Linked DNA regions of Homo sapiens. The protein of the gene in region 2 interacts with the protein of the main gene of each other region in a biochemical or structural test. Each region holds a gene or a part of one and is shown on either strand. Other genes may lie near its edges.

The links. The genes of interacting proteins can lie anywhere in the genome.
Region 1: the proteins of CASK (region 2) and RPH3A form a complex in vitro, tested with the Homo sapiens proteins (one study listed by BioGRID).

The regions. Positions count from the first base shown.
Region 1 is NC_000012.12:112,892,046-112,896,869, reverse strand, and holds part of RPH3A (rabphilin-3A), read right to left. Parts: intron 4,592-4,824; exon of another isoform or gene 4,485-4,591; intron 2,293-4,484; coding exon 2,211-2,292; intron 1,094-2,210; coding exon 997-1,093; intron 221-996; coding exon 90-220; 3' UTR 1-89. UniProt on the Homo sapiens protein: Plays an essential role in docking and fusion steps of regulated exocytosis.
Region 2 is NC_000023.11:41,517,288-41,522,294, reverse strand, and holds part of CASK (peripheral plasma membrane protein CASK), read left to right. Parts: exon of another isoform or gene 1-142; intron 143-1,698; coding exon 1,699-1,875; 3' UTR 1,876-5,007. UniProt on the Homo sapiens protein: Multidomain scaffolding Mg(2+)-independent protein kinase that catalyzes the phosphotransfer from ATP to proteins such as NRXN1, and plays a role in synaptic transmembrane protein anchoring and ion channel trafficking.

The sequences.
Region 1 (4,824 bases), on a different chromosome or scaffold from region 2:
GGCATAGAGAAGAGAGATCAGGGTGCGGTGGGCAGCTAGAGCAGGCTGGGGGGGACCCGGGACATGGAGATGGGGACCTGGGCACTAGCCTAATCACTTGACACGTGGTTCTCATTCTGTAGCTGGTGCCAGCGCTCTATCTTCTTGTCTTTATTTTTCAGACACTCGTACCAGTGTTTTAAGCGCTCTCCCTTGGCAGAGATCCCCAGCTGGCAGCCTCCTGGAGGATAAATGGGAAGATAGGAGCAGGTGGTCAGAATAGAGGTCGTTCTAGACCCAAATGTGTAGTTGGGGAAAAAACTGCACCAAGCAGTGACCCCCAGCAACCTGGGATCCATACTCTATAGAGAGTTGTTATAACGTTGCTGCTGTTGTTGTTATTATTATTACGGTCCTTCTCTGCCTCAAGAACCTGCAATGGCTCCCTACTGTTCCACTGAGTCATAATTTCACTGTCTATTTTTAAAGGCTTTCTACAAATCACCATTCTACTCACTGAAACTTATCTCCCACTACTTCTGGGAACTCATTGTCTATTTCCAAAAAGGTTCATCATCCTGCTCAATCCTGTCTTTACCCCTTAGCTCAGGCTCTGTCCCTTGCCTGGAGTCCCCACCCCCCTGCTTCATCTTTAATTGATTTTCTTCCTCATGATTCAAACAGGAACTAAAAAATTAAAAATTTTATCCTGGACATGCAAATAAATTAAGAATTCTTTTGCACCCTGCTTTCTGCAGAGAACGCAAATCTCTCCTGTGATTTAATTACCCCACTGGAGGTGATTTGTTCAACAAATAATCAAGTTTTGTAAGGCTTTTCATGTAAAGACATCCCCAAATTGGACCAAGGTCAAGATCATGGGTCTCAATTTAGCATTTGAACAATGAGGTTGCCAAAAGAATAGCAATGACCTCAACTCTCTGTAGCCCTGGATAAGGCTCTCCTGTTCTGGGGAGGACAGAAGAGGGCGTTTTCTCTGGAGTTAGGAACACTCACCGATGTAATCATTGGACTTGCCGATGTCATAGTCCCAGACTGAAATGTCCAGTGACTTCTTTGCCAGGTCACTGTGTTTGATGTCATAGAAAAACTCCTGAATACAACAGAGGAAGACATGTGGGTAAGAGCCCTCTGAACCCACAGCATTGGGAGGTAAGAGGCCGAGTCCTAGGGGTTATGGGCCAAGGAGAGGTCCTTGAGCTGGCATTCTGGGAGCAAGGAGGTCTTCCCGTGCCGATCCTCTGCCCCAGGTCCCGTGATCCCCTTCCAACAAACACTCTGTGTAACAAAGCACTGTCATCCTCTTTTCAGTGAATTCTCTGCTTGAAATTGGGAAGGCTGGTGAGGTTTTTCTAATAGAGCTCAAGTTTCCTTGTAGGTAAATGGCCATGAACATAGTCCTTCCCCTCTGGTAGTTTATGAAGGGGCATCCCCTTTTTTATTGCTTAGGAATAAAAGTAGTTGAAGTGGCCGGGCCCGGTGGCTCACACCTGTAATTCCAGCACTTTGGGAGGCTGAGATGGTGGCTCATTTGAGCTCAGGAGTTCGAGACCAGCCTGACCAACATGGTGAAACCCCATCTCTACTAAAAATACAAAAATTAGCCAGGCATGGTGGTGGGCACCTGTAATTGCAGCTATTCGGGAAGCTGAGGCAGGAGAATTGCTTGAACCAGGGAGGTGGAGGTTGCAGTGAGCCAAGATCACGCCACTGCACTCCAGCCTAGGCCACAGAGTGAGACTCTGTCTCAAAAATAAATAAATAAATAAATACAGTTGAAGTGGACTGAGTACATATGTTCCCAGACAATCTGATTTTTAAAAAATAGCTTCTCTGCCTAATTACAAAATTCATTTTATGTTCATTGCTAAAACAAAGAAGAACCCCCACCCCCAATTCCCGGTAATCCAACTACCCAAGAATAACCATGTCAACATTCCCCCACATGTGTTCACAGTGATGTATAAATTTTTTGTTAACTAAGTAATGCTGAACATACAGTATTGTCACTTCCTTTTTCATTTACAACTTTGGGCAAAAACCAACTTAGCATGTTCTCAAATATTTTTCAAATATTTTTCTACATCATCATTTCAAATGGCTGCATTTAATGGCTATGTGGCCACATATTTAATGGCTATGTGGCTATTTGTGCCTCTCTAACACACAGCAAATATCCCAGAGCATGAAAAAGAATAGGGCAGCCTTACCTCATTGAATTCGGGATTCAAGGTTTTCTTTTTAATTTGAGTCTTGTGTTTGGCCTTCTTTCCCATGTCCGGTTTCAGCCAGCTGGGAGGCGACACAACATGCTATTATGGATGACGTTTAATGAATAAGAACAGCCTCTTGACCCCAAAGGCCCCTTCTTTATCAGGGTGAATTGATGAATAAATCAGAAAGGGATCAACATTGATAATGACCAATATGCATTAGAGCATCTGCTTGGTACCAGGCACTTGACTGAGCAACTTAGGCATATTTAATCCCCACATGACCCTAGGCAGTAGAACCACAACCACTCAGTTTACAGAAACAGAAACTGAGATCCAGAGAGGCAGAAGTGTGCCCTAGCTCACACAGCTGGGATTGAATCCAGATGTTGCATCTAGAGTCTGTGTTCTTAGCATGCTCACTTTCTCCCCATAAGTCAAATTGATGGCCATGGCTGGTGGTGCCTGGCATTTTACCATCTATCCCACCTTAGGCTGCCCCCAATCCCTAGAGAGAGGCTGGGTGTATGCACAGAAAGGGGAAGATGCAAATCTGATTATTGTCACTCCACTTCTCAAAACTGTGTACTGGGTTCCTTTTAAACTCAGGGGAGAGTTCAAAATCCTTCATGTGGCCTTAAGACCGTGTGTGTTGGGTTTCTGCTCCATCCCAACCTAACCTTATGCCATCCTCCTCACCCCACTCCTTACTTCTCCTTTCCACCCAAGGGCCTTTGAGCAAACTGTTTCTTCTGCCTACAGGGCTCTTTTCCAGTGAGGCCCAGTGTCTGGCACATAGTAGGTACTCAATCAATATTTTCTGGGTGAGGCTGCGTATGGTGGCTCGTGCCTGTAATCTCTGCACTTTAGGAGGCCAAAGCGGGAGGATCACTTGAGCCCAGGAGTTCCAGACCGGCCTGGGCAACATAGCGAGAGCCTGTCTCTATAAAAAATAACAAAAATTATCTGGGCACAGTGATGTATGCCTTCAGTCCCAGGTACTCAGGAAGCTGAGGTGGAAGGATCTCTTGAGCCCCAGAGTTCGAGGCTGCAGTGAGCTATGATCACACCACTGCACTACAGCCTGGGCAATAGAGCGAGACCCTGTCTCTTAAAAAAGAGAGAGAGAACAAAACACAAACCAAACAAAACAAAATATTTCCTGGGTGAGTAAACACAATGGGCTAAACACTCCTAAGGGCTGGGACATTTGGATTCTGATTCAGGTTGTCACCAGCGGAGCAACTTTAAACATGAGCGTAACTTTACCGTGCCTCTGTTTCTTGACCTGTAAAGAGGGCGAACATTTCATTCTCATCTACAGAAGTGGTTTTGAGGATAATTTTTAAGAAGAGACAAAAATGAGGAATTAGAAGTTACCAAAGAGCTAAGCAAAAATAATGGGAAGTTCTGGCTTTTAAAAAATCTTTATTTGATCAGAAACTGCTTAGTGGTCTCCCATTTTTTCTCCCATAACTGCACCCAGCAGGTCAGCTGCTTCAGTAGTGACCACGGCAATTCTACTTCTTCTGGAAGGATTGGGTAGGTGGGGGAGGGGGTGGTAGAGAGAATTATTTAAGAAAACCAATCTGCACATGGCTGACCTCTAATGGAGTGCTGGACAGCACCCCTTGAGCTCATTTCCTCTCTTGGGTCATACGAGGAAATAAAATCAAATTACTCTTAGAAACCAAACTTGTCCCTGACCTGTGTGTTCTTTGTTAACTAAATCTTCATTCAAAGGAAATGTGAAAGACAGCCCACATGGATCTGTTCTTTGGCCATGGACTAAAGGGAAGTATTGCTTTCTGTTATCAGAGGCAGTGGAGGTGGGGGGAGTGTCTCCCAACTGGAGGGGATATTAGTAAATACTCTCTGCCATGAGTAAGGACAGTGATGGTGGTTATTTATAACCATAATGGCAGGTATTTATTAGCATTTACTGTGTACCAGACCCCTTGAAAATGTACCTCTCAGCCTGCATTCTCCAGTTGCAGGGGGTAAAACTGATGAACAAGCTACTGGGCTCTGTATTCATGATGTTCTTGCTGAAGCCACGCTTCCCACAAGTGTTCTTAGCCAATAACTGACGCTAGCAGGGACACTAGGCAGCCCCATTTCTGGGAAATGCAGGACTCCTCTGATGGGTGACTGTGCTCAAGGATTCTCCATCACCTTGGATGAAATAGTGCAGCTTCCTTGGAGCTGCACTGTAGCCTAAGATTGTTTCTACCCAAACTTCCTTCCTTCTCTGCTCCACAGGGGTCATACCTGTAGCAAGGTCTGTGGTCTCTATGGGTCCCCTCTGGATTCCTCCTTATCTCCTCTACAGGCACACCTGTATCTTCTCTTGGTGTTTCCTTCTTGGAGGACCTGAACTAATATACAGTATTACAGTATTACTCTGTCCATTTTGCAGATGAGCACACTGAGGCCTAGAGATGTTAAGCTATGAGCCCCAGGTCACATAGCTAGAGCATACTGGAGACTCCATGCTCCATGGAGATCCACATCCACAGAAACATACATGTTGCTGCCCCAAGGCCAGCAGAATTCTACTGAGGTGCTAAACATTTCTGTACCAGGCTCGATTCTGTTTGCTTTCTTTGTG
Region 2 (5,007 bases):
CTGTGGTGTCTGCGCATGCCCACTGCAGTGCCAGGACAGAATCAAGCAAGTCTCTTTATCTCACTTCTAGTCCCCTTTCTTGAGAGCTGTACCCAGAGAGCTGAGGCTTGCCTGGACCTCCCAGCAGCCTCCCAGGAAAGGTCTCTTGCCAATAACAGAGGGGCTTTAGAGAAGAGGAGAGGAGGGGAGGGGCCCTAAGCCAGTACTGGGTACTACGGCTCCTAGGTCCTTGAAGGTACCGCATCTTTTATTTTCTCTGGAGATCTGTCTCTGTCACCCAGGGCCCCAATTTCCTGGAAGAATTGCTCAGTCTCTTGATTTTAGATTTAATACTTGTAAAACCCTATAATGACTGGCACTAGTCAGACAAGTGCTTGTTCTTTTGACAGCATTTATTAAGCACTTACTATGTGTAAGGCACTATGCCTAATGCTGGGGCACAGCAATTACAGGGCACACAAGACAAGTTTATGCCCTAGCTGGAGACATAGCCACTAATCAAATAAAGAGGTATTTCGTTATCTCTATGTATATTTAAGACTCAGCCCAAGAGCTCACCCACCTAGTGTTTGGCAGGTAGGGGGTGGTTAATTTGACTCACAAAGTTCCCTAGTGTCAAGGTTGAACTTGCCCTTTGGGAGTTCAGCATGACAAATATGACTTGCGAAGATATAGAGGCAGACTTCTTTCTGGTGGCTCTTAAGAGACCCCTGTCTTGAAAGAACTGCCACTCTGTAGCAGAAGCTATACTTGCATGACAAAGCTGGGACCCTAAACTCCCTCCTCCTGTTGGATCCCTCTTACAAGAGTTCTTAAAATCTGTGGCAAGCTGCAGCTTAGGGAACATCCTTTGTTGCAGCAAACCTCCCTAGAGTTCAGTACTCCCTAGAGTTCTCTTCCTTCTGTTTTTTTCATAAGAGATATGAGGACCTACGAACAGTGACATTTGTCTAGCCACTTCTAATGCAGACCAATTTGGGGGGATTCATCAGATGCCAGGTGCTGTTTATTGGGGAAACAGCCTTATTCCAGCCATTATTTGTAACACTCAAAGATCTTTTGCCTCTGGCATCAGCTGCTATTGAGTGAGGGCCATTATATGTAATTGAATTCCTAGAACGTGTGGCACCTTTAAGTAGAAGAGGAAAAAATACAACTTAATTTGTCATCCAAGGGCAGGGACTTGTTGGTGCAAACACAGCTGGGCCCTGAGGCCTGGCTCCAGTGAGTGTGGAGGACCAAGGGGACGGGGGCAAAGAGCTCCAGCCTTGCCACCGTAGCCCTCTCGCCAATTGGGAGAGTGGCTTGAGGCTAGGGCGGGGGGCTTCCTGCTGGCCTGTTTGGGCCACCATAGCCACTGTAACCCACACCTGGCATGGCCCTACCAAGCCTGACTCTGGGGACAGGCACAGCTAGGCCTGAGTGGGGGTGGCATGTTTCCTGAAGAGTATCTGTTTTCTCTGGTTCGTCTGCTTTGTCATGGACCCTCTGTTGCATGTTGAGCAATCACTGTCTCCTCTGTCATGGAGCGGACTTGGCCTCATGCTGGCATATGGCATATCAGGGTCTGGCCTTGACTGTTTCTGACACTGGGATGAACAAAAATGTGAAAAGAGAACGAATCCAACTGATTTCTCTCTTCTGTTTGCTTTTCCCTCCTCTCATGCCCACCCCTACCTCCATCTCATCACCATTTAGGATGAATCTCTTCAGCGTCTGCAGAAGGAGTCTGACATCTTACAGAGAACATATGCACACTACTTCGATCTCACAATTATCAACAATGAAATTGATGAGACAATCAGACATCTGGAGGAAGCTGTTGAGCTCGTGTGCACAGCCCCACAGTGGGTCCCTGTCTCCTGGGTCTATTAGGCCTCTCCCCAGATATCTGAGCATAACTGGGAGCACCTCATTTGTGGAAAAGCCTCTTTGTTATCGGCCTTGTGTCAGCAGGTCATGGTCCCTAGAGACTACCTAGTTGTAGTGTGACCTACATTTATAATTATTGTCATGTCCGAATAGATAGGAGGAGAAAAACAATTACACACTAATTTAAAGAGACAGTATCTTTTTTAATCAGTTCTCCTAAACTTTAATAAAATGTATCTTTAAATGTATGTATTATTCAATCCTTTGGAATGTTATATTTTTGGAAATCATAGCTTTTTATTTCCAAGGCCCCTAAAAACTGCACAAAATAGATGCTGCTTTCTATAATCTATTTTAATAATAATAAACAATGATTCTGTTACCTTGACTGGGGGTGGAACACTACATTCTTTTTAGAGTCTGATTTTATGGATTGGAATATTGGGATATCTTTCTTTCCTTTATTTATTTGAAATAATTAGTGTAGTGATTACAAAACAGTCATAAATTTTTAAAGGCCTTTTTTCTCTCTTTTTTTTTTTTTAGAATAGTATTTTTTTTTAAGTCCTTTATGTAACATCCAGATAATGTGATACTGTCTCTTTGAAGCACCCTGTAAACCTTTTAGAGATTTGAAGTTGGGTCTTGACTCTTAATGCATGTGGACAGTCGCGAGCGTTTATGCTGTCGGTGTGTCTGTGTTGGACAAAACAATCTGTAATCTACAGCAAAGTACATTCTACATTCCGTTCATGGGGCACACCCAGGGGAATAAGAATAAAATGCTATTATGACTAAGTTGTAAACCTATGCACATCCCTTGCATTTTGGGCAACTTTATAAAAAAAAAGAAACTGATTTTTATTAATAATAATCATGTAGTGAAATGTGTTTGTAATTTTGTCTCAATTTAATTTGTTGTAAGGTGGGGTGGGGGGAATTGCTGGTTTCACCATTTCAGATCTGTGTTGTCTAAGAGTATTAACGTTTTAATTAAGCAAAGAAATGATTTTTAATCTGTATGTAATTGTTTTAAAGCACCCATTTTAAGAGAAAATACTGTGCAATGAAGAAACCAGTTTAGGCATTTGCTATAAACTGAAATATTCCAAAAGAATCATCTATAACAGCCCTGTAAATTCCTTTAAAATGATAACTAACAGGACAGTTTGACCAATTTTTTTTAAATATACTTCCTTTTATGTGTTCAATAATTAAATGCCTTTGGGTCCTTCATTTCATTATAGATTTGTTCAGGCTTCCAAGCTGATAATCTTTACAATTGTATAATTTGTTAGATGCTCATTGAACCTTTGAAGGCCCAGGAGTGAGTATCAGTTGGCAGGGTGACAAAGTAGCCTGCCAGAGCACAGCTGGACCACGTCTGACTCGCACAGAGCCATGCGCCCAAGGGCCACGGGTGTACTGGAGGCCACCTGTGGTCTCTCCTTCCTCTTGCTGTATCCCTTGGCACAGGGGAATCATCTGTCCTTGTTGCTTTAGAGACATTAACCATCTCATAACTCTTCCATGAAGTCACATTCTTCCAATACAGGAGATTCGGGCTGGGGTTCTCAGACTCTTTGCCAGAGGTCAGTAGAATGTTTTTCATTAGCATGTGAGGGTGTGAAGTGCTTATATTAACCTGTGATCCTTGAAAACATACCATCATTTTTTGCTTCTTGTAGGTTAGATGGCCTTGTCACTTTGTGCCTTGGCAGGATGTGCAGGGTGTGTTCTGAGCTGAACAGCTCCTCTTAAAGGACCAAACAGAGAAGGCATTAGTATACTTCTTTTACATTGTCAACACCATACCCGCCTCCGCCCCCCACCGCCTATTATTAAATGGTGGCGATTTTTTTTTTTCTGATGTTGTTCTTTGCCAGTGACCAGATGAGTCTGCAACTTACTAACAAGGTATTGAGTGAACTACTTCTGTATGGGCCCCACAGTGGGGTGACCAAGCCACCAAACCAGAGATAAGCTCAACAGTGGTCTCACACTAGATAGAGAGAGAAACCTTCAAAGAGTTGGGTAGGGCTGTGTTAGAACTGATTCGAATCTGATAGATGCCAAGGCCAGACAGTCGTTCCTGGTATGGTACTGACCACAATTTCGGGCTCTTAGTGTGAAGGTGCGCACTCTACCTCTTTTCTGGTGAAGCACAAAGACAACTACAACTAACACATGGGAAACAGAAACTTCCCTCCCTCTAGTGGAAACCCCCACGCCCCCACTTGCCCTTTGAGCCCACATCTCCAGAGATGCTGATGATGCCTGTCTTAAGCCATCTGCCATATTTATAAAGGTGGATTAAGCAGAGGAGGAGAAAAGCAATGCCAACTTAAATGTCTGTGGCCCCACAATTCACAAGCACTGTAGCACTCATCCTCAGTGGCTTTATACGTCCTCTGAGAAGCACACAGGCAGGCATCATTCTTGCCATCATTCCGATGGTGAAATCCCTGCATGCAGAACTCATTGACTTCTCAAAGATGTTACCTGTTCCATTCCACTAATACATGTCTTCTCTAAAGCAGTGTCTTTATGACCTAGCTGCATATACTTACATTTCTGAATTCAGAGTAATTTCAGTACATTGCTGCTGCTGCTGCTGCTGCTGCTGCTGCTGCTGCTGCTGCTGCTGCTGCTACTGCTACATTACAATTGTCCACTAAGCAATCAGAGAAAATTGCTAAAAGCTTCTTTACTGCTTCCATTCCATCAGCAGAACCTTTTTTTTTCTTTCTTTCTTTTAAAGACCAGAATGAATGTTTAGAGTACTAAATCTTATTAGTGGTCAATTGAAGTATTGGAGAGCCACATTTTGAAGGTTCTCTCCCCCACCCAACTCCATTCCCCACAGCAAGAAAGGGAGTGTTTTTATATGTTGAATTCTTTGTTAAAAAGATGAAATGTCCTGATTTTCCAGTCACAAGACAGTAATTACTTTGCACATACAGCATATCCCATTTTAATGCTAAAAAGGGAAATGTCACTCAATTTAATTCATCTGGAAGTTTCCCAGTGTCAAGATAACATTGTAGCCTTTTTAAATGCAATTAAATGTATCTCTTGTCAGGTGAGATGATTTAAAATCTTTGCTCAGAGAGGAAAACAAATGGTTGACCTACT